Homo sapiens: one gene and its partner. The protein of the gene in region 2 interacts with the protein of the main gene of each other region in a pairwise test. Each region holds a gene or a part of one and is shown on either strand. Other genes may lie near its edges. The genes, in order: RETREG1 and ZBTB7C.

Evidence for each region.
Region 1: the proteins of ZBTB7C (region 2) and RETREG1 interact in a two-hybrid assay, tested with the Homo sapiens proteins (one study listed by IntAct).

Annotation. Positions count from the first base shown.
Region 1 is NC_000005.10:16,611,598-16,622,328, forward strand, and holds the start of RETREG1 (reticulophagy regulator 1), read right to left. Parts: upstream 5,401-10,731; 5' UTR 5,375-5,400; coding exon 5,055-5,374; intron 4,890-5,054; exon of another isoform or gene 4,329-4,889; intron 1-4,328. UniProt on the Homo sapiens protein: Endoplasmic reticulum (ER)-anchored autophagy regulator which mediates ER delivery into lysosomes through sequestration into autophagosomes.
Region 2 is NC_000018.10:48,034,342-48,044,563, reverse strand, and holds part of ZBTB7C (zinc finger and BTB domain-containing protein 7C), read left to right. Parts: intron 1-3,440; coding exon of another isoform or gene 3,441-3,456; coding exon 3,457-4,664; intron 4,665-10,222. UniProt on the Homo sapiens protein: May be a tumor suppressor gene.

The DNA of each region.
Region 1 (10,731 bases), on a different chromosome or scaffold from region 2:
AGATTTCTACGTGATGTTTTCCAATAGCTTTATTCATAATAGTCAAACATGAAAACTACCTGAAGGAACATCAACTAGCAAATGGATAAACAAATTGTGGTACATCATCAAAGTGGTACACTACCCAGCAATACAAAGCAGCAAATAACTGATACACACAGCAGAGATGAATCACAAAACTACGCTGAGTAAGCAAAGCCAGACACAAAAGACATCACACACTTTAGGAGGCTGAGGCAGGCAGATCACCTGAGATCAGGAGTTCGTGACCAGCCTGACCAATATGGTGAAACCCTGTCACCACTAAAAATACAAAAATTAGCCAGGCTTGGTGGCATGTGCCTGTAGTCCCAGCTACTCGGGAGGCTGAGGCAGGAGAATCGCTAGAACCCAGGAGGTGGAGGTTGCAGTGAGCCAAGATCGCACCACTGCACTCCAGTCTGGGAGAGAGAGAGAGACTCCGTCTCAAAAAAAAAAAAAAAAGGACATCACCCTATCACCCTAAATAACACCATTTATACAAAGCTTTAGGGAAGTCCAACCTAGTCAACAGTGACAGAAACAGATCAGTCCCCAGGGGTGGGTGCTGATAGAACAGGGATGCAAAGAAGCCTTTAAGGGTGATGAAATATTCTAGATCTCAACTGCCAGTATGGTTACACAGGCACATATGATACATTTGACTGTATACTTACAGTATGGGCATTTTATTGGTGGTAAACCACAAAAAGTTGATATTTAAAAAAAAACCAACATTTTCTATTACATTGGGCTCATTCCATTTCAGGATGTGCTTACAAGTACAACATGGGTTGCTTCTGAGAGGAAACTGCGTAGACAGGGACAGGCGTGGGAAGACATCAAAATGTTTACCCTTCTGTACATTTAAACATCTGAACTGTAAGGCTATGTTAGTTAATTTTTAAATAAATAAAATTTTAAATGAAGGAAAAAATTCTAAAAACATGTTCTTCATTGGTGAAATGAGTGAGATAGTATTATCTGAGGCCCCTCATCACCACAAAACTATGGGACTGTTACCCAATCTACTTCAGTTGTGGAAACCCTGCTTTTTGAGACAGGCACTCTATGTGGCCTCTATTTTACCAAACTCCTCTGAGTTCTCATGAATATCATTTTTTAGCATTTTTTCATATTTCAGTATTTTTCATAAAATATACCATAGATAAGAATGCATATGTGTGTGTGTGTGCCTGCACGTCTCGGATTCGAGAATGTCTTTTATTTTCTTTGTAGTTTTATCCCCTATGTGTGTATCCCTAACCAATCCTGTTCAGTTCCTGCACCATTTAAAACTTAATTGAATCATTCAGCATATATTACTTTGTGCATCTTTTGACCAAAATTACATTTGTAAAATTCATCCCTGTTGTTGCTAAAGCTGTATTTTCATTGTTATATGGTATCACAATTTATAATAAATAAATGAACCACAGTGTACTTATCCATTAAATTATTTGTGGATACTTCTACAAAGTATTTTTTTTTTTGGTCCCTGTTGCCTACAGAAAAAACAAATCCAAACACACAACATAGCATCTGAGGCAACTACTGCCCCCACAAACCACCTAGCCAACCTTATCTCCCACTACATTTTCTACCAGCCCATGCTGCCATTGCATCTGTTTACTGTGTAGTGGTTGAAATATTAGGTACACCTTCAAGATGCTATTGTGTTCATTGTATTCCTCAGGGTTAGAATGCTCTTGATCATCTACTAGATCTCCCAAATCATTCTTATCCACTGAGGTTTAAGCATGATCTCCTTATTAAGAACCCCACAATCTCTTCCATCCACAATACCACGTTCCCCAAAACCATATCAAAATGAATTATCCTTTCCTGAATCTTCCACCACACTTAATTCATGCAACTTTTAGTTATACCCATTGGTTACGGCTGTGTCACAATTTTTGCCCAAAATCTTGCAGATAATGGGCAGGTAATAAATGTTGAAGCTTTTGAGTCAAATTCAGACTCCTAAAACCCACTGCTAATGCCAGGTGCTAAATCATTCAAAAATATATCTTTAAAAAGTTTACTTCCACAAAAATGAAATACATCAATTAAAGTGAAAACAACATCCCATTGCTTAAGACAGATTTGGTTGGGTTCCCCACAGTTTTAAAATTGATCTTTTTTTCTCATAGAAAATACAGTGCTTTAGAGTTCCCAAGACACAGAAGGTTAGAGTATCACATAATTTAAGATCATTTGAGAAGAAATACATTATTTAAAGAAAACGTAATGTCCTTGAAAATCATTTTAACCCCCAGAGCAACAAATAAAAGGGAAAAAAAAACAAAATTTTAATGACATTAATAAATGGGTCATAAATTCCAATGAATTATAATGCAAAAGCAACAAGTAATTCTGAACTTAAAGAACAGGACAGTCATTTTTGTCAAAGAAAATACATGCATGGAATGCAGATGCCACAAACAGGAGATGAAATAAAACAGATAAGGAGAAGGCTGTATCTAGGCTGAATGGCTGGCCAATGTTTTCCTCTCCGTCAGTATAAATAAAATGGATGGAAGAAAACACCCCTGGATACTATCAAATATGCCTTTCAATTATTTTATGCAAAAACATTATTTTCAATAGGTGTCATTAAAGAAAACATCATAGAAAAAAGTTTGCAACTCATGTTACAGAAATTAGGCTAAAGTCTTTAATATAAAAACAGCTCCTATAAATCAATAAGGAAAAGAACACTGGCCTACTTGAAAAAATAGACAAAGGTTATTTATAAACAAACAATGCTGATAAATGGTAAATGTGGTAGTTCTTAAACATAAGATAAAATGCTCAATCACAGAGAACTGCAAAATAAAATCATTTTGGGATAGTCTTTTTCACCTATCAGATTTGCAGGATCAAAAAGTTTCATAAAATATTCTTCGCAAGAGTGTGGCAAAGCAGGCAGTCATACACATTGCTGGTGGGAGTATAAATTGTTAGAACCCTAAGGAGCTGCATGCAATATGGTGACAGCCATCAAAATTACAAGTGCACATGCCCTCTGACCCAGCAATTCCACTTCTGGGAAGTTCTCTAAAATACTTGCATATATGCAAAATGATGCATGTACAGGGTCATTAGCTATAATGCTGAAATAGCAAAAGCTTGGAAACATTACTGCCTCAGTAGGAGACAGGTTAAGTAATTTGAGACATCCTTACAATAGAATTCTGAAGCAGCTGAAAAAGAACAAGGAAGCAATCACCAAGAAATACTAGGAAAAGGAAGAGCTCATATGTTATTCCACAATTTGCATAGAATATGGTGTATTTGCTGAAATGTGCACTATCTGGAAAGAGACACAGGAAACTAGCAACATTGCTGGCCTCCGTGAGGAAACTGGGCGGCCAGGGACTGGGATGAGAAAGAGATTTTCAAAATGCTTACCCTTTTGTACCTTTAAACTTTTGCACTGTGAGACTGTATTAGTTTTTTAAAGAAATAAAATTTAAAATTAAGAAATAAAATGTTAAGGCCGGGCGCAGTAGCTCACGCTTGTAATCCCAGCACTTTGGGAGGCCGAGGCGGACGGATCACGAGGTCAGGAGATCGAGACCATCCTGGCTAACACGGTGAAACCCCGTCTCTACTAAAAAAAATACAAAAAACTGGCCAGGCGTGGTGGCGGGCGCCTGTAGTCCCAGCTACTCGGGAGGCTGAGGCAGGAGAATGGCGTGAACCCGGGAGGCAGAGCTTGCAGCGAGCCGAGATCGCGCCACTGCACTCCAGCCTGGGCGACAGAGTGAGACTCCATCTCAAAAAAAAAAAAAAAAGAAAGAAAGAAAGAAAAGAAAAAGAAATAAAATGTTAAAAACATCGTAAACATTAGTGAGACACAGCCCTAAGACTATTAGACTATTGCCCAATCTAGCATAAGACAATATGTCCTTCTTATTTGAGTGCTCGCATTCACTCCATAATAAGATAGATTTGGAATAAACTCTATTCCAAACACAGATACCTAAGAGATCCAAAGTTAATTCACTTTCAGGGACCTCCGACAAGATACAGCTAGTTTTAAGAGAAAACACCAGGACTAGCAGAGATCTGAGGAAAATATTCATCTTGCTCAAGTTAACCTAGAAAATGACAGGCTGTCTATTTTGTGCAATTTATTTATTTCTCAACTTTAAGGTTCAGAAATCTCTGTCCTGTAACAAGGTATCTGTTACCGGAGTCTGATTATTCTGCACTGTGTAGGTCATGTTTGTTATGAGGACACTTAGCAAACAAAGAAGGTTTTTCTCCGCCCTCAATAGCGTGGTAACGGATGACAGGACACCACTTTCAACGAAGGAGACAGACATTTCCCTGGCCTTTCTGAAGAGCGCTTTTTGGAGAGACAAACCTGTTGCTCAGGGGCTGAGCATTCCCGTGTGTTCTCCCTGTACTTCACCTAAAAATATGCCTGTTTTCCACACTGTGCACACCCGGGGGTGGGTGCTGGGCATACTCCACCTGCTTGTTTGCCTCCCGTTTTCTCATCAGGGAGTAAACACAGTAAACCTAACGCTCCAGGGGAAGGAAAAAACAAATCATTCAGGGCCCATCTCAGGTGACTGATGAATGCGGCACCGTTTTGAACGGGTACCTAATCTGGTCCAGATATGCCTGCTGGGGCTGCAAGAACCAAGACACGTTCAAGCACGTTTGCTCCGGCAAGCTTGGGCGAGCAGGTCAAGACCTCAGAGTTTTAGAAAGCAGGGGCGAAGTTTTCAAGCACGATGGGAACACCTGTAGGTGCAGGTGCCTGAGGGTCGGCCGACCACCTCGCATCTGAGGCTGGATCCGCACACGGAGAACGACAACTGCTCACAGGGACGTGCGTCCGGAGGAAAGTTGCGGTGAGTGTCTACCTGTTCGAGACAGGTGGCCGAGAAAGTGGGGCAGGGCTGACAATTCTTCCTCCGCAGTGTCCCGCGGGCTCCCCCTGCACTGGGTCCCCGGGGCCCCGGGCGCCCCAAGGTCACCTGCCCTCCTCAGCGCCCCCACCTTGCCCAAGCTCTCACCAGAACAGCAGGTTGGCAGCGACGAAGCCGAGCAGGCTCCGCAGCGGCCTCTTCCAGCTCAGCAGCTCGTCGGCGCGGCAGCCCAGCCACAGCACCGGCTCCCCGAGCAGCCAGGTTACCGCGGCCGCCGCCCGGCCCGCGGCCTCCTCCACCTGCAACCCCGCGCCCTCCGCCGCCCCAGCTTCCTGCGCTTCCTCCTCCTGCTGCTGCCGCTCTGCGGGGGATGCCTGGGGCGGTGGCGGCGACGGCGGCGCCTGCTCCTCGGCGGCAGGAGCCGGGCATCCCTCCTCGGCGTGCTCCGGAGGCGCCGGGCTCGCCATCTTCAGCTGTGCTTCCAGACAGGGACGGGGCCGGGCGCGCGCGCGGGCGCGCCTGGGTGTGGGTGCCGCCGAGGGCGGGGCGGCGGTGGCGGCAGGTCCCGGAGCGGGGCGCGCACCGCGGGGCACAGGCGGCTGGGGGCCTTGTGACGCCACAGGCCACGGAGGGGGAGCCGCCCGGGAAAGTGGGTGCGGCCGAGTTCGCGCAGGGGCGGGGCCGGGCGCCGGGAGCTGGGCGGTGTCCCCGGGGGGCTCTGGGTTCCTGGAGGGCCTCTCCGGGACTCGAGGAAAACGACCTTTTCCCTTGCAGCGGCGGGAGAGGGCGAAGTGGAGGACTGCTGCTCGGTTCCGTATCCAAAAGAGACCCAAGGCTCCAGGCAAAATAGATTGGACATTTTCACTTTCTCAAGCCAGGGCCACCGGTCGCCCAACCAGCAGCCACTGAGGGTGGTATCGGGGCGCCCCTTCCCCTGGCAGCGTATTTCAGCCCCCAGAGACATCCCCCACCTCGGCCATCCCCAGCGCCTTTGCAGGGACAGCAGCACAACCATAGCAGAGGTCCTGGGCATCCTGGAAATAACGTGCTGGTATAAATGTTGGATTGAGAAAGGAAGAAAAAACATTTGGGGTCAATTTGGGGCCCTCTCGTTTGACACGGGAGGAAACACAAGGCCGCAGCGTTGGGGGAAGCTGCTTCCTTTCTCTCTCTTCTTTCTCTCTGTCTCAGGTGCTTCCTTTCTCTTCTCTGTCTCTCTCTCTCTCTCTGCCTCTCCCTCTCTCTCCCCCGTCTCTCCCCCTATCTTCCCCTCTCTCCTCCTATCTCCCCCTCTCTCCCCCTCCTTGTGGCTAGGTGATCTGGCTCAGAAGTGCACGTTGGCCCGCGCGTGCGGGGAGCTGAGAAGCAAGAGATTGGAACTTTGCACGTGTCAAGCAAGGTTTGGCCTGCTTTGAAGACAGTAATTTCAGAGCCACTCCGGTCTCTGCGTCACAAGCGGGCATCAGGGCAGTGGTGGGGCGGCAGGGGATCCTGAGACCTCCCATGCCCTCTCTTTGGCCCCGGTGCTTCTGGGTGAGTGTGGGGAGAGAGGAAAATAGTTGTTTATGCTTTTCACCATTTGCATTTTTAAATTTTTGTCTTCTTTAATCTTCCTGGTCTTACTTTTACTCTAGAATGACAGGTCCTTCCCCCCCATACTAAGGGTTCTGTCTGCGGATGCATCAGGGCATCTCATATCCCTTTACTGGCAACCAGCCTGCCTGCACAGGATGGAAGGGAGGGCAATTAAATTCCCTGCGTCAAGGGAGTCTCTAGGGGAATGTTCTGTAACGCTCCTCTGGGTGGCCATTGTAAACCTCTGTGTATACACACGTGGAATCCATTGATCTGTACATTCACTGCAGGTGTCTGCACTTTACTGCTTGTATGTTGTACTTCAAAGGAGTTATATTCCCAGAGCCCAGGCAAAGGCTTACTGAGCACCTACCGAGTACACAAAGCATTGCTAAGCTCTGTGGATGCAGCTTCCACCCACAGGAAGCTCCCAGTCTGATGAGGGCCCAGTTACAATTGTGATATCTGCCACAGCGAAGAAGCCTTCGCTAAGTGCTAAGAGATTCCTTACTTAAACTGTGCATCCAAAATTAGGGGAGGAGTGGAGGGATCAGGTTTCAAGAGCGTTTTGTAATAAATGGCCTCTGCCCTAAATTGTAGGGCCCCCATTAGTGTGGGGATTGGGGACAGGGGCAATAACTGCTGTTGGGAATTCAACAGGAGAGGAGGCATGGGGTTGCAGGTGGAGACGCACAGTTCCTTAAGTAACTCACCAAAGGGAATAGTGGACATTGAATGGTCTCTAGTAACAGGAGGCTTGGTTTTTAACTAAAGGTGATACAGAACATCTGGCATTTCCGACTCCCCTTCTTAGGAGTATCCTGACAACCCGATGGAAAGTGGCCTGGGTGTCAAGGAAAAAGCAACGTGGAAACAATTCAGGTTTCTTCCATATAAGAGAGACAATCTTTTCCCAGGTGTGGGTCCTCCCTCTTGGCAGTAGCGGAGAAGTTTTTGAAAGATAAATGATGCTTTTATTGTGTCATTTGGCCTTTGTTTGGCGCTTGATACAGCCCAGGGTTTGCTATTCTAAAATCTGTCACTAGACAGATGTGTGCTGCAGCCAGTGTGGAGAACATGGGGCAGGAGAGAGGAAGAACCAGGTGTCCCCGTTCCCCAGACCAGTGCTGATGTGCTACCAGAAATGGGTTTGCAAGATTAATCACCTTCCTCCTGCTTCCCTTGAATTCTAATTATTGTTGTCAGGATCTGTTGAAGTAGTAAAAGCTGCTGGCAACCAAGACACATAAAAGCTAAGCTCCAGTTGCTGTGTGTGGTTTCCAACACTTATTTATTATCTCTGTTTAATAATAAACCTCCTTCCCCACAGCTATGTGTTGTAAAGTCTATCCTTTCTCTCTCTCTCAAAATTACTATGGAGAAAATGCTATGCAACCTGTTTTGCATAAAAGGCTGGGCTAATTAACCTTTCCTTTTCACCTCCGACCTCTAATACTTACAAACTGTATGACAGAAGTAGACACTGGCATAGACATACAAATGGTGCTGCTGGGTGGGATTTTGTTGTTGTTTTGTTGTTTGTCTAATGATCTTTGTGATGCTTGAGTAATTTATTCAGGGCTAAGATTACAGAAACATAATGCTAACAATGGTTGAAATCAACCTTGTCCCCTAGTTTTAAGAACACGCCACATTCTTGAACTCCTGCAAGTAATCTTACTAAGATTCTCTTCTGAAATTTTATTGCTATATATTAGGAACAGAGTGATTAACACTAGTGAGCTAGATGATTTGACAATATATATCTGAGAAAAGGAAACTGGAAACGTGTCTGAGAAAAAAAAAAGTTCTAGCTACTGAATGAGAGTTTAGAAAATGAGACAGCTCCAGTAAAGAAAGTCCAAATGCACATAAGAACTCTCTAACAGAGGCCACTCACTTTTCTCATCTAAGAGTATGTGGAAAGCTTGTAATAGGAGAGGAAAAATTATGAATAATTAATTCCCACTATAGGAAGTCTCCTAGGGCAAAATCAAGCTAAGACTTAGAATGATGGGGAAAAGCCCCCTAGTCATAATATTTTGGGGAAATTTCTTTTCTCTACAATATTATATATTAGAATCTTACAGTAGCTCCATGATTCCTTAAACAAAAGGAGGCTCGTTGATATGGTTTGGCTCTGTGTCCCCACCCACATCTCACCTTGAATTGTAATAATCCCCACGTGTCAAGGGTGGGACCAGGTGTAGGTAATTGAATCATGGGTGCGGTTTCCCCCATGCTGTTCTCGTGATATTGAGTGCTTGCAAGATCTGATGGCTTTATAAGGGGGCTTCTCCCTTCACTCAGCACTCATTCTCTCTCCTGCCACCCTGTGAAGAGATGCCTTCCGCCGTGATTGTAAGTTTCCTGAGACCTTCCCAGCCATGCGGAACTGTGAGTCAATTAAACCTCTTTTCTTTATAAATTACCCACTCTCAAGTGTTTCCTCATAGCAGCATGAGAATGAACTAATACACTTGTGTATATGTTGTATCGTTTATTAGCCTGCAGATAGAATTTTTTTTGTGTTGGTACTTTTATTAAACTAATTCTACCCTCCTCCCCTTGCTATATCCTCTGCTCCTTATTCCTAAGTTTCCATAATTTTCTTCTCACTAAGAAAACCTGGATAGTTCACTCTAAGCACAGATAAATAAGAGTATCATACAGCATCAGCAGGCACAGAGCAATTGGAAAGGAAGGAAGATCATCTCCCGGGTCTCTAACCTGGCTTCCAAGGCCCAGCCCAGTGCCTGGCTCACAGAAGGAATTCACTATTTCTACTTATGTTGAATGTCTGTTGTGCATATACAGACGGAAATATTCAAACTAGCATAGTCTGTGTTTGACAAGCATTCCATAAGGGATGTGCTTACCAGAAAGATGGTGGCCAAGATGTTGGCCACCCAGATATCAGTTGGGGTATTGCTCCCTAATACCTAAAAGAAGTTTTTTTTTTAAGGCTTCAAAATGGTTAACTGAAAAGAACGGAGGTCACATGACAACATGAGTATATCCCCCAAGGAAGCCTACCTGTCTATCCCCAGGTACACACACAAACACACGCACACCTATGATCCACAGGGGTGACTGCAGGACATTAACTTCCAACCCCTTCCCAACAGGAATCTGAACCAGCAGACAAAGCACTGTCGGGTCCTTGCTGCAACCTCTTCCCCCCACCCCCTTTGATGGTCCTGGTTCTGCATCATTGTACTTGCGTATCATTCACTCATTATTTCATTGCTTCATTCACTAGTCATCAGCCATTCCTGAAAGACTGACTGTGGGCTTCTGGTAAGATGAACAGGACTGCTTATTTCTCTCATGGTGCTTAGAGTATAGACAATGGATAAAGACCCTGAAGAAGGCGCTGGGCAAAGGGAATGGGGAAGCATGGTGTGCACAGTCTGGAAGCAGGAGAGGAGCCAGCCTGGCCCTGGTTGGAAACCTGGAGGAGATCTAAGCTGGAGGATGGGGTGGGAGGAGCAGGAGGCTACTCACAGTGGGGCTCCTCCTGTATGATGCTAGAAGCTTCTGCTTTGTCCTGAGAGCAACAGGGAGCCATGGGTGGGCTTGCAGCAGGACACAGAGGGGCTAGCCTGTGTTTTAGAAAGGTATCTCCAGACCATGGAGGATATAAAGCCTGGCAGAGGGAAGGCACTCTCAGAGACTTTTCCCTTGTCATTCTCTAGAATGAGGGAGGAGAAGGAGCCAGTCTGGAAGGGAGGCTGACAAGTTTCATTTTTAAAAATTGATCTGCACTTGGATATCTCTGGAGATGCCAGTAAGGTTGTTGGGTACAGAGGTCTGCAGCTCAGAGACCAGCAGGCATCCTGAACAAGACAGATCCAGGCAGACGGAATGGCCTGTAGGAGAACTTGGCAGAGGGCACAACCAAGAAGAGTTCAAAGGCGCTGGCCAGTTCCATGCGACTGCATGGGGTCATGGTATGTGATAAGACTTTTGAATAAATAGATCAAATAAAAGTTTTAAGTATCAGCGACAGAATTTTAGAAAAAAACTTTGAGCAGTAGAGATTTCCTAGAGTTTGTGGGTTTCTGTGTTGTTATTGTTTGTTTTTACCAAGGAAGTGATAGAATCAAAGCAGTAGTGTCCTGAGGTCCTGGAAACTCCAGCCTGACTTCCATCCTTGAAGCAAAACTGTGTTGTGATTCTCTCTAAATTCAGGTCTCCAAATCAGGCCTCCAGTCTCAAGGGGGTATCTTCCATGCTAAAAATAGAT
Region 2 (10,222 bases):
CATCTGATCCAGGCCTCCAGGGGCTGCTTGCTGGCCCCCAGCCCAGCTGCCCAAAGGCAGCCTTCTTGGGGCATGGCAGCCCCAAAGGAGCCTGCTGGCATGCAACCACGCAGGCTGCCCTGGTTTCCTAAGCCCTCTGCGTTCCCTTGGGTGCCCACCACTACAGTGGGGAACCAGGGAAAGGAGGAAGTCACTAGGAGCTTCTCTCCTCATCCAGCATGGGAGGATGTGGAGATGTAGGAGGTGGCCTCAGAGCTCTCTCTGCAGCACAGCTCATTGAAGCCTCAGCCTGGGGACACCTTCCCTGGTCAGAGAGATGGAGGGGTGTCCATCAACTAATCCTACACAGGCCCTCGAGGGATCTGGGTGGGTATGGTCCATCTGAGCCCCCAGAGAAATGCAGAAGTGGAATGGTTTGTCAATAGACAAGAACCATGTTCAACGGGGCCACTCAGAACAGAACCTGGCCCCTCAGACCAAGGGCACCTTGGTGGGGCTGCCTACTTTGTGCCACTGTTCCCACAGCCTGGTACACTGTTCTCCACATCCTCCCATGCTGGATCCTTCTCCTCTTCTAGGTCTCTGCTCAAATGATGCTTCCTCAAGGAAGCCTCCCCTGTTCACCCTGGGTAAAGCGCCCCCCTCCTCTCCTCCCTTACAGCTCTGTGGTAGATAGCTGGATGAGAGATGGAGAGAAGCGAGGAGATTGATTAGTGGCTTTAGGTTGTTTCCCGTCATTTGCTTCTCTTAGACTTTTTCTTTTGAGATACTTATCGTTTCAGCTACAGTTGTAAGAGATGATACAGAGACATCTCATGTACCCTTTACGCATTTTCTCCAGTGGTAACATCTTGCAAAACCATAGTACAATATCAACCAGGATATGAACACTGGTATAATCAATATGCAGAACATTTCCATCACAAGTATCCCTCCTGTTGCCCTTTTATAGCCACACCCACTTCCCTCCCACCACCACCACCTCCTTAGTCCCTGGCAACCCTCATCTCTTCTCCATTTCTATAACTTTATCATCTCAAGAATGTTATATAAATGGAATCATGCAATATCTAACCCATTGGGATTGGCTTTTTTCACTCAGCGTAACTCCCTGGAGATTCATCAAGGCTGTTGCACATATTGAGAATTCACTCCTTTTTATTGCTGAATAGTATTCCCTGGCATGGATGTACCACAATGTTTAGCCATACACCTTTGAAGGATGTCTAGGTTATTTCCAGTTACTCACTATCGTGCACAAAGTGACCATGAACATTTGTGTATGAGTTTTTCATGGACATAAGATTTCATTTCTCTGGGGTAGATGCTCAAGAATTCAATTGCTGGGTCATATGGCGGTTGCATATTTTGTTTTTTAAGATCTGCCAAATCATTTTCTAGAATAGCTGTACCATTCTACATTCCTACCAGCAATATACGAGTGATCCTTTTCTCCACATCCTCACCAGCATTCGGTGTTATCAGTATTTTTTTATTATTTTAGCCACTATCCTATGTATGTAGTGATGTCTTATGATAGTTTTAATTTGAATTTCCCTAATGGCTCATGATATTGAACATCTTTTCAGATTAGATGGCTTATCTGCCATCTGTATACTCTGTTTGGTGAATCTTGCTGTACATTTTTATTGCAGTTGTTATGTCCCTCTAAGCTCTGTTAGAGCAGAGGCCTTCTTGATTTGTTCTCTGTGCATCCCCAGAGTACAGTACAGAGCCTGGCACAGGGAGACTACCCAATAATATTTAGAGAATGAATGCATGGACTGCCAGGGTCTCTGGCCCTTTTAAAGATGAGAAGGTGGGAAAGCAGTGAGGCCTTAGCTCTGGGAAGCCTCCTGAACACCTGGCCAGTGGGATTGCTTAGGGAACGCCTGGGCTGCCCCATGGTGGAGGAGAAGGTGAGGGCAGCGGAGGGGCACCCAGCATCCTCCATGCCTGCTGCCTTCCCAGTGCCCACTCACACTTTATGAGCGTATACTTCTCACTCCTCCCCTCCCCCTGCCTCTGCCTTCCCAGGACAGAAACATCCAGAAGATAAATGTGTAAGGATCTCCAGAACTCTTCCCACTGGGGCGTGGGGCTTTAGGATTTGTTTTCCTTTTTGTTTTCTCCCCACTTTATTTGTACCAAGATAAGGGCCAGGGCTTTGCTAGGATTTATCTAGATGAGCCATGTTGAAGCTTTGCTGTAAGTAGAAGAGCCCTATGAAGCTTGTCCAACCCACCTTATTTTATTGTTGTTGTTGTTCTGATTTGTTGTTTGTTTTGTTTTAGGCTTTTAGCAGCCTGAAGCCATGGTGTTTGTTTAGTTTCTGTCTCTAGTGATAAGTGGAAAAGAGGGATGAGGAAGGGGCTTTACTGGCCCAACCAGAAACTAACAAACAACCCATGACTATATTCTCTCCTTGGACGCCCCTACCTGCCCTGGCAGATGCCACATTTTGTCCCAGTTGACTGTGTTCACCTGGGCTGTGAGCTGTGCTTCCTGAAAGGAAGGGATGCCAGTTGTCCCCTGTCGTGCCCTGCTTTCTTCTGGTGGCTGCCACTGGCCATACTTTATGTATAACATATACAATGATAAGGTGTCTCAGAAGACGCTTCTCACCACAGGGGTTGATATTTTCATGAGGCTGACAGAATTTAGACATGAAAAATTAACTAACAATGTACTTGAATTTATATTTATATTGCATTATATTTATATTGAATATTGCATTTATATTTGTATTGAATTTAAATATTTATAGGTGAAATCACTCTCAGATATACACATATAGGAAGTTAGTGTTTTTTTTTTAAAAAAAGGATCAAGATTTACAAATGGAAGGAAACTTCAACTGCAATGAACGAGTAAGGTCAGGAAGCAAAACATACCACAAGGCCCCCATTTACTTGCTGAAAATGGGCCACGAAATTTGTTTTAAGCTTCCTAGTAGCCAGTGCAAAGTGTAAGTCTGTTACAGAATCAGAGGATTTGTGAGACAAATCAGAGCATCTTCTCAGCAGAAGCACTGAGAGGTCCTTGCCCCACAGAGGTGGGTCCTGTTCCTGCAGCCAAGGCAACAGCTAGGTTCATGAGGCTTTTCATCCTGCAGTTGTATTCTGCAACTGCATGTTGGCAAAGTGGAAATCAGTAACACCAAGCCTGAGAGAAGGCTTGCAGCCTTTGGTGAGTAGCTGACACCAGCTGCCCAGTGAGAAGCCTATCCCTAAGAGTCTTAGGGGTCCAGAGAAAAGCCCCAGCTTGTAAGCCAGGCTGTGAATTGCAGGTGAGATTTGGCAAGGCTAAGAGGTAGGAGGACTGGCCTTGCAGTGGACAGGGAGCCCTTATGCCAAGGAGGTGGCTCAGAGTCCTAGAGTTGAGACCCCTCCTGGGGCCACGCTCACTAACCCAGTCTTCTTCTCTGTGTGTCTCTGCAGGGCTCTGGCTGAGAACATGGCCAATGACATTGATGAGCTCATTGGCATTCCCTTCCCCAACCACAGCAGTGAGGTCCTGTGCAGCCTCAATGAGCAACGGCACGATGGCCTGCTGTGTGACGTGCTCCTGGTGGTGCAGGAGCAGGAGTATCGGACCCACCGCTCCGTCCTGGCTGCCTGCAGCAAGTACTTCAAGAAGCTTTTCACAGCCGGCACCCTAGCCAGCCAGCCCTACGTCTATGAGATCGACTTTGTCCAGCCTGAGGCTCTGGCTGCTATCCTGGAGTTCGCCTACACCTCCACGCTCACCATCACCGCTGGCAATGTCAAGCACATCCTCAACGCAGCCAGGATGCTGGAGATCCAGTGCATCGTGAACGTGTGCCTGGAGATCATGGAGCCTGGGGGGGACGGGGGGGAGGAGGATGACAAGGAGGACGATGACGACGACGAAGATGATGATGATGAGGAGGACGAAGAGGAGGAGGAGGAAGAGGAGGAGGATGACGATGATGACACGGAGGACTTTGCTGACCAAGAAAACTTGCCTGACCCCCAGGACATCAGCTGCCACCAAAGCCCTTCCAAGACAGACCATCTCACAGAGAAGGCCTATTCAGACACCCCCAGGGACTTCCCTGACTCCTTCCAGGCTGGCAGTCCTGGCCATCTGGGGGTGATCCGGGACTTCTCCATCGAATCTCTGCTAAGGGAGAACCTGTACCCCAAGGCCAACATCCCCGACAGGAGACCCTCCTTGTCTCCATTCGCCCCGGACTTCTTTCCACACCTCTGGCCAGGGGACTTCGGTGCCTTTGCCCAGCTGCCTGAGCAGCCCATGGACAGTGGGCCACTGGATCTGGTCATCAAGAATCGGAAGATCAAGGAGGAGGAGAAGGAGGAGCTGCCCCCACCCCCACCGCCACCCTTCCCTAATGACTTCTTCAAGGACATGTTCCCTGACCTGCCGGGGGGGCCTCTGGGACCCATCAAGGCGGAGAACGACTACGGTGCCTATCTCAACTTCCTGAGTGCCACCCACCTGGGAGGCCTCTTCCCACCCTGGCCCCTGGTAGAAGAGCGCAAGCTGAAGCCCAAGGCCTCTCAGCAGTGCCCCATCTGCCACAAAGTCATCATGGGGGCCGGGAAGCTGCCGCGGCACATGAGGACCCATACCGGGGAGAAGCCATACATGTGCACCATCTGCGAGGTCCGCTTCACCAGGTGCGCATGGCAGCCCTCGGGTGTGGGGCACGGGGCCAGAGGCCATGGGGGACAGCAGAGTTGGGCAGGGAGGCTGGCGGTGGAGACAGAGACCCAGATAGATCCCACACACATGCAGGCTCGTGGCTAGCAGGGGTGCTAGGCATCACCTGGTGCTGTGACTTTCAAGCCCTTTTTAGGGGCTGCAGTATTTTCTCAGATACAATATTAGGTGGAAGCCCATGACATGAAGCAGGTAAGAGCAGGGCTGTTCTGGCTGGGAAGGAAGTGAGGCGCCTCAAGCACCTTGGTTGCTTGGCTTCCTCTTCTCCTTCCAGCTGTAAATTTGTGGAACCCAGTTTGAATGGATGGCCCTCCCCAGATGGAGTGCCGCCCCTTTGTTTGATTTGGAGAAGCAGCCACTGACCTTTATTAAGCATATTCTGCATGCCAGGGGCCGTCCTCGGCACCTTAAGTACATGCTTACCACAGCTAGGCCCTGGGAAGATGGGGAGACGTGGTTGACTTTGTTTATGACACATCTCCCAGTGGCTAGCTGACCAAGCATGTGTGCAGCTGGAAAATGGCAGAGCTGAGACTGGAATCTCAGCCTCTGTGTAATAGCAAAGCCGGTGACCAGTAGACTGCAGAGATGCCTGTAGGTCCTCTCAATCATTTTGGGGTCAGACCTAAAGGCTGGGCCTCTTTTTATGTTCTCCTCTTTGCCTTTCCATTTAAGGAAGGGGGACAACTTTATGCTGTTATAAAATTTGAAATTTGAAATCAATACATTATAAACCTTTCATCTTTCATAGACTCTGTCCCATTCAGCAAACATATGTTATATGCCTACTCTGCACAGCAACTTTTGTACTCAAAACTGATTGGCGGGTTGACGTGGGGTCAGATCTGCCCACTGCCAGCTTTGGCTAGGCCTCACTTTTGGAAAATACGGCCCATTGGTGCTATCTCTGGTTCCTGGTGTGAGGCTGATCTTTTCAGCCATGTCCACAGGTGGGGAGGGCTCTGGTGGGTGGCCTGGCATCAGGGTTTGGTCATTTCAGTGTATCCTGTGTGTACAGAGCCTGGCGATGCCTGCCCTGTGAACATGACTTACTAGACTAGGTCCCTTCCCCACCCTGCCACTGTCCCTCTCAGAGAACTCACCTTGAGAGACCCACACTTGTTCCGGTGGCGGTGCTGCTGCCCCACTTCCTCTTGGAGATGTATCTTTGGGAATTGGTGGCAGCTCATTCTTTTGATTTTCCTCAGTGGGCCCAAAGCTTTGGCCCAAGGACACAGTGCAAGGTTGTGAATGAGACTGGATATCAAATCAGGGACTATGCTTTTCCAGGAAAAAAAAAAAAAAAAAAGATGAGTCCTCTAAAGTCATGAGACCTGTTCTTCTGGGTTGCTTGGAAACTACTGGAAGTTGCCAGAGAAGAGTTTCAGAAATCCATTCAGGTGACACTGGTGTGGCTGAAATAGCTCTGCAGGCTCCTCAGGGGACTGTTTTGAAGGAAACACTGATTATTTCCAAGGTGGCCTTGGGGTCCTGCTCACAGCTGCTTCTGTGAGGGGAACCCCAGACAGCATCTGTCCCAGGTGCTTCCAGTGACAGTAGAGGGAGAATCTGCAGGAGCAGAGGGGAAGGGCCTCACAGACCCAGGATGTGTTCCCTTGCCCTTAGCAGTGAGCTAGGCCAGCCACCCGGCAATGCTGACAGCAGGGCGCCCTGCTCCTGTTACTCCCCAGAGCAGATGGACCCAAGGTTCCTGAGATTCACCTCCCCTTGGATGTCCCTCAGTGACAGCCCTGCCACCCCAATGCCACCGTGGGTGATGCTGCCCCCTACCTCCTCCTGAATTCACCTTAGCCCCACAGAACCAGGCAGAACACCTGAACAAGGCTTGGCAAAAGCACAGGAATACCGAGGGAGATAAGCCAGAGCACCGTGTGAAAGCCAGATTCAAGTACAGCTCACCCATCTTCACGGGGGGCCTGGCTTCAGCCCGAGAGTCCCAGCCCCTGCATATGACTTTAAGGATGCCAGGAAGCTCTTCACAGGCCAGATCAGGAAAGCCAGCCATGTTATCAGCCTGGAGCGCCCTCTCCTGCCAACGCAGGCTCTGCCTCCCTAACTGCCCATGCCTGCCCCCTTGGCAGATGGCTAACAGGAGCACCTCTCCCTTCAGGGGAGACCGAGGCTGGTGACTCCAATTCCAAAAGGATCTATCTGTGTCTCAGGATATCGCACGGTGGCCCTGCTGGCACCCTGAGACCCCATCTCCCTTCTTCCCCACTCCCTTTCCTCTGGGCCTTCCCCACGCACAGCCTTCTGTGAGGTCCACGCCAGGTCTGGACAGTCTGTGCACCCTGTTTTAAGGGAAGGTTTTAACCGTGCGTAGTCACTGCAGACAGACTTCTCACCCTCTGGACCCTGGGACATTCTCTGGGAGTGGGCGTCCTGGTTTGGGCAGCAGTGCTGTGTTGTATAGGAGGGTGACATTCCAGGTTCCTCCCTCCCAGCACATTCCTGATGGTCACTTGGGGTGGCCTCTCTGTCTGCAGTCCCCACTCCCAGCCAGATGATAGGCAGTGGGGCAGCTCTGGTCATCCAGCCATCTGGCCTTGGGTTCCTCCTGCTCCAGAATGACGGCCATCTGGCCCCAGGCCTGTCTCCAGCTGAAGCTGCTGCATTGCAGCCCCCTCAGCACCCCCACCACTTGTTCCCACTGGTCTCTGACCCTCCCGAAAAAGATCAGACAAGCTCTTGGGTCCTTCTCTTCCCAGGAGGAGAGAAACCCCGAGCTGGGGAAAGGCAGGGTGGAGGAGATGGCTCCAGCCTGCCTCCCTTCAGAGGCTTTATTGCTCACTGTGGGCTGTGGCTGTCCTTGTGGGACACTCCCCACTCTCCTCCCCCTCACATTCTTCAGAATCACTGGGCCTTTGCTTCTCACCCCATCTCTGGAACTGCCCGGCAAGGATTCTTTTCCGTGCTTGAAGAGCCCCAAGCGTGGTCTGTCCAGGTTGAGGTTTTCCTGTAATTCTCCCTGTGGCCAAGGCTCCCTGCAGCCTTTCCACGGGGACCTTATTTTTGGCTGAATTCCCCAACGCGATTCCTAACACCTGCCCCTTCCACCTGGAAGCTCTTCAGCAGCCACTTAGAGCAGAGACGGCTGCCTCGTTGACGCAGAATTCCCAGACTCCCTTCCAAGGCCACGCCACTTCCTGAGACTGGGCCCTGTCATGTCACTCTTGTCCCCGCAGCAAGGACCCAGACATGCTGCCCTCAGGTCCTTCTCTCGGACATGATTTCCATTTCCCCTTCTGGAACCCGAGTCTTTCCTTCATCACAGCTGAGCTTCTGCCCTGGCAAAGCCCCATTTCCTCCCTCCTTGATGTTGGGAAGAGCTCAGGGTCTTGTGACACCCTCCCCGCCCCACCCCATGGGGTGCTGGAGAGGCCTGCCCTTCCCCTGCATGGTAGCCCTTCAGCCCAGGCTCTGAGTCACAGCCTCCCAGATGCCAGCTCCCAGAATGTCCACACCCCACGGGGACGTACTAATGACCTCAGCAGCCACAACCCAGGGGGAGGACATGGGAATCCTTCCAGCAGAGCCCCTTCACCCCTAAGGCCCTGCCTGCTGCTGTCATTCTGTGGGTCTAGAGAGGAGGGACAGAGGCCGCCCCACAATGGTATTGTCTGTTCTTTGGTGTCAGGAACCTCACCTCTGAGGCAGCTCTAGATTCCAGCCAGTCCTACCAGGTGTCCCACCACTGATCTGTTCCAAATATGAAATCTCCCTAGGCAGGGCCTCAACGGCATCAACCAAACTATTTCTTTGGCCCCATGCTGTCCCTTCCTAGCTCTGGTCACCCCATAGCCACTTGGGCTCCCTTTGCCTGTGCACTCCCTCGGTTTAGTTCAAAGACACCGTTTTCCTCCTGGGAAAGGCTTGTGCCTGTGCTGGCCACAGAGGCAGCTCCTGTCCCTTTCAGGTCTGACTTGGGACACAGAAACAGCTCCAGGTCATAGGGCAGAGGCAGTCTGGACCAAGATTACCTTAGATCCTCTTCATCAGGAATCCTTTCCCTTCTCTTCCCAGAAAGTCTGGAAGCCAGGAGCCAAAGGTTAGGATGGCAGGCTTCGGCCAGAGGTGATGCCTAGGAAGGGCCTAGAAGAACAGGGAGCATGTGATCTCAGGAAGATAAAGCATTTGTCTTCATGCACAGGGACACTGCTATGCTTGGTGGGTATTTTCCCTGCCCACGGACATCCCAGGTCCAGGTGGCCCCCGCACACCTTTTTGCCCCATCTGCAGCCATCACTGCCAACTGGGCCTGGCCCTGGGCCCTGTGAAAGCCTGTGCATCTTCCGCCTCTTAATTCCCACCACATGGGTCCTTGATTGCAGGCCATAGAGACTTGCCCCTTGCCTCCCCCAGCCCTTCTGTTAGTAGCTCCTAGAGAGCATGGCTGGCTGGTCTCCCTCCTGGAGCCCCTGCATCCTGTCACAGCCTGGCTCCCAGAGATGCCCCAGCCATGCCTGATGGGGACAGTAGTGAAGGCAAGAAACTGCAAAATGAAAACAGACTGGCCCAGAGACAGCAGAGGTCCCATAGAGCACACCGTCCTGGGTGGGGATGGACGACCTCTGCACCGCAGTCACTCTCTGACAAGGCACGCTTTCCAGTTCCGCTGAACCCCGAAGGCTGTGCCTTTTAGTCTCCACCTGCCTCCTCCAGTGCCAGCCGAATGCTGACCACCTTTGTGCCCCCACAGCTGCCTGCTCTCCAGATAAGCCAGCAGCCTGGCTTTTGTCTTCCCTCTATTTTCTTTGTAGTCCTCCCACTCCTGGCAGCTCTGGGAACCCTATTAAGATAATGTAATGGCATTAGCAGTGGTAGCAGGAAGAGTGTGTCTCAAACCATCGGGTTACAAGAAGTCCAGGTAGAGGCTGCTGGGAAAGCATTATCCTGATTGGGAGCCTTTCTGGAGGCCACAGACCTCAGGCCAAGGCCCCACAGCCCTTTTCTTTGATTCTGGGAATGAGCTCATGAGGACTCACATGACTTTCCCGACGATGAGCTCTCCAGGCTGAAAGGAGGCATGTAGACCGAGGCTTGGGTGCATATGTCCTTGGCTGTCCCTGATGCAGAGAGATGGAACGAGATGGCAGACAAGGGGACCAGGGCCAGAGGGGAGCATGTTGGATTTGTAGTCGGAGAGTTCTGAAATTGGCACCACTAGTCAGTCACCAAACGCGCAGTGAGCCTCCTCTCTATCTACATTCAGTGTTGTGTGTTGTGCAGAGTACGAAAGAGCATCCCACAGGTTCTCATCAAAGCAGGTACCAGAACTCCATGCCACGTGCAGGGAGGAGTGCTGGGAGGAGGAGGGCTGGGAGGAAGAGGGCTGGGAGGAAGGGGCACCCTGGCTCTGGGCTTGGCCTTCTGGGAGGGCCCTAAGGATAGAGCATCAGTGTCCAAGCACAAGACATGCACACACGGGGAAGGAGCCAGGGTTTACAGGGCATCCACCCTGTAATGTGGTGGGCTGTGCACTGGGGGACCGGCA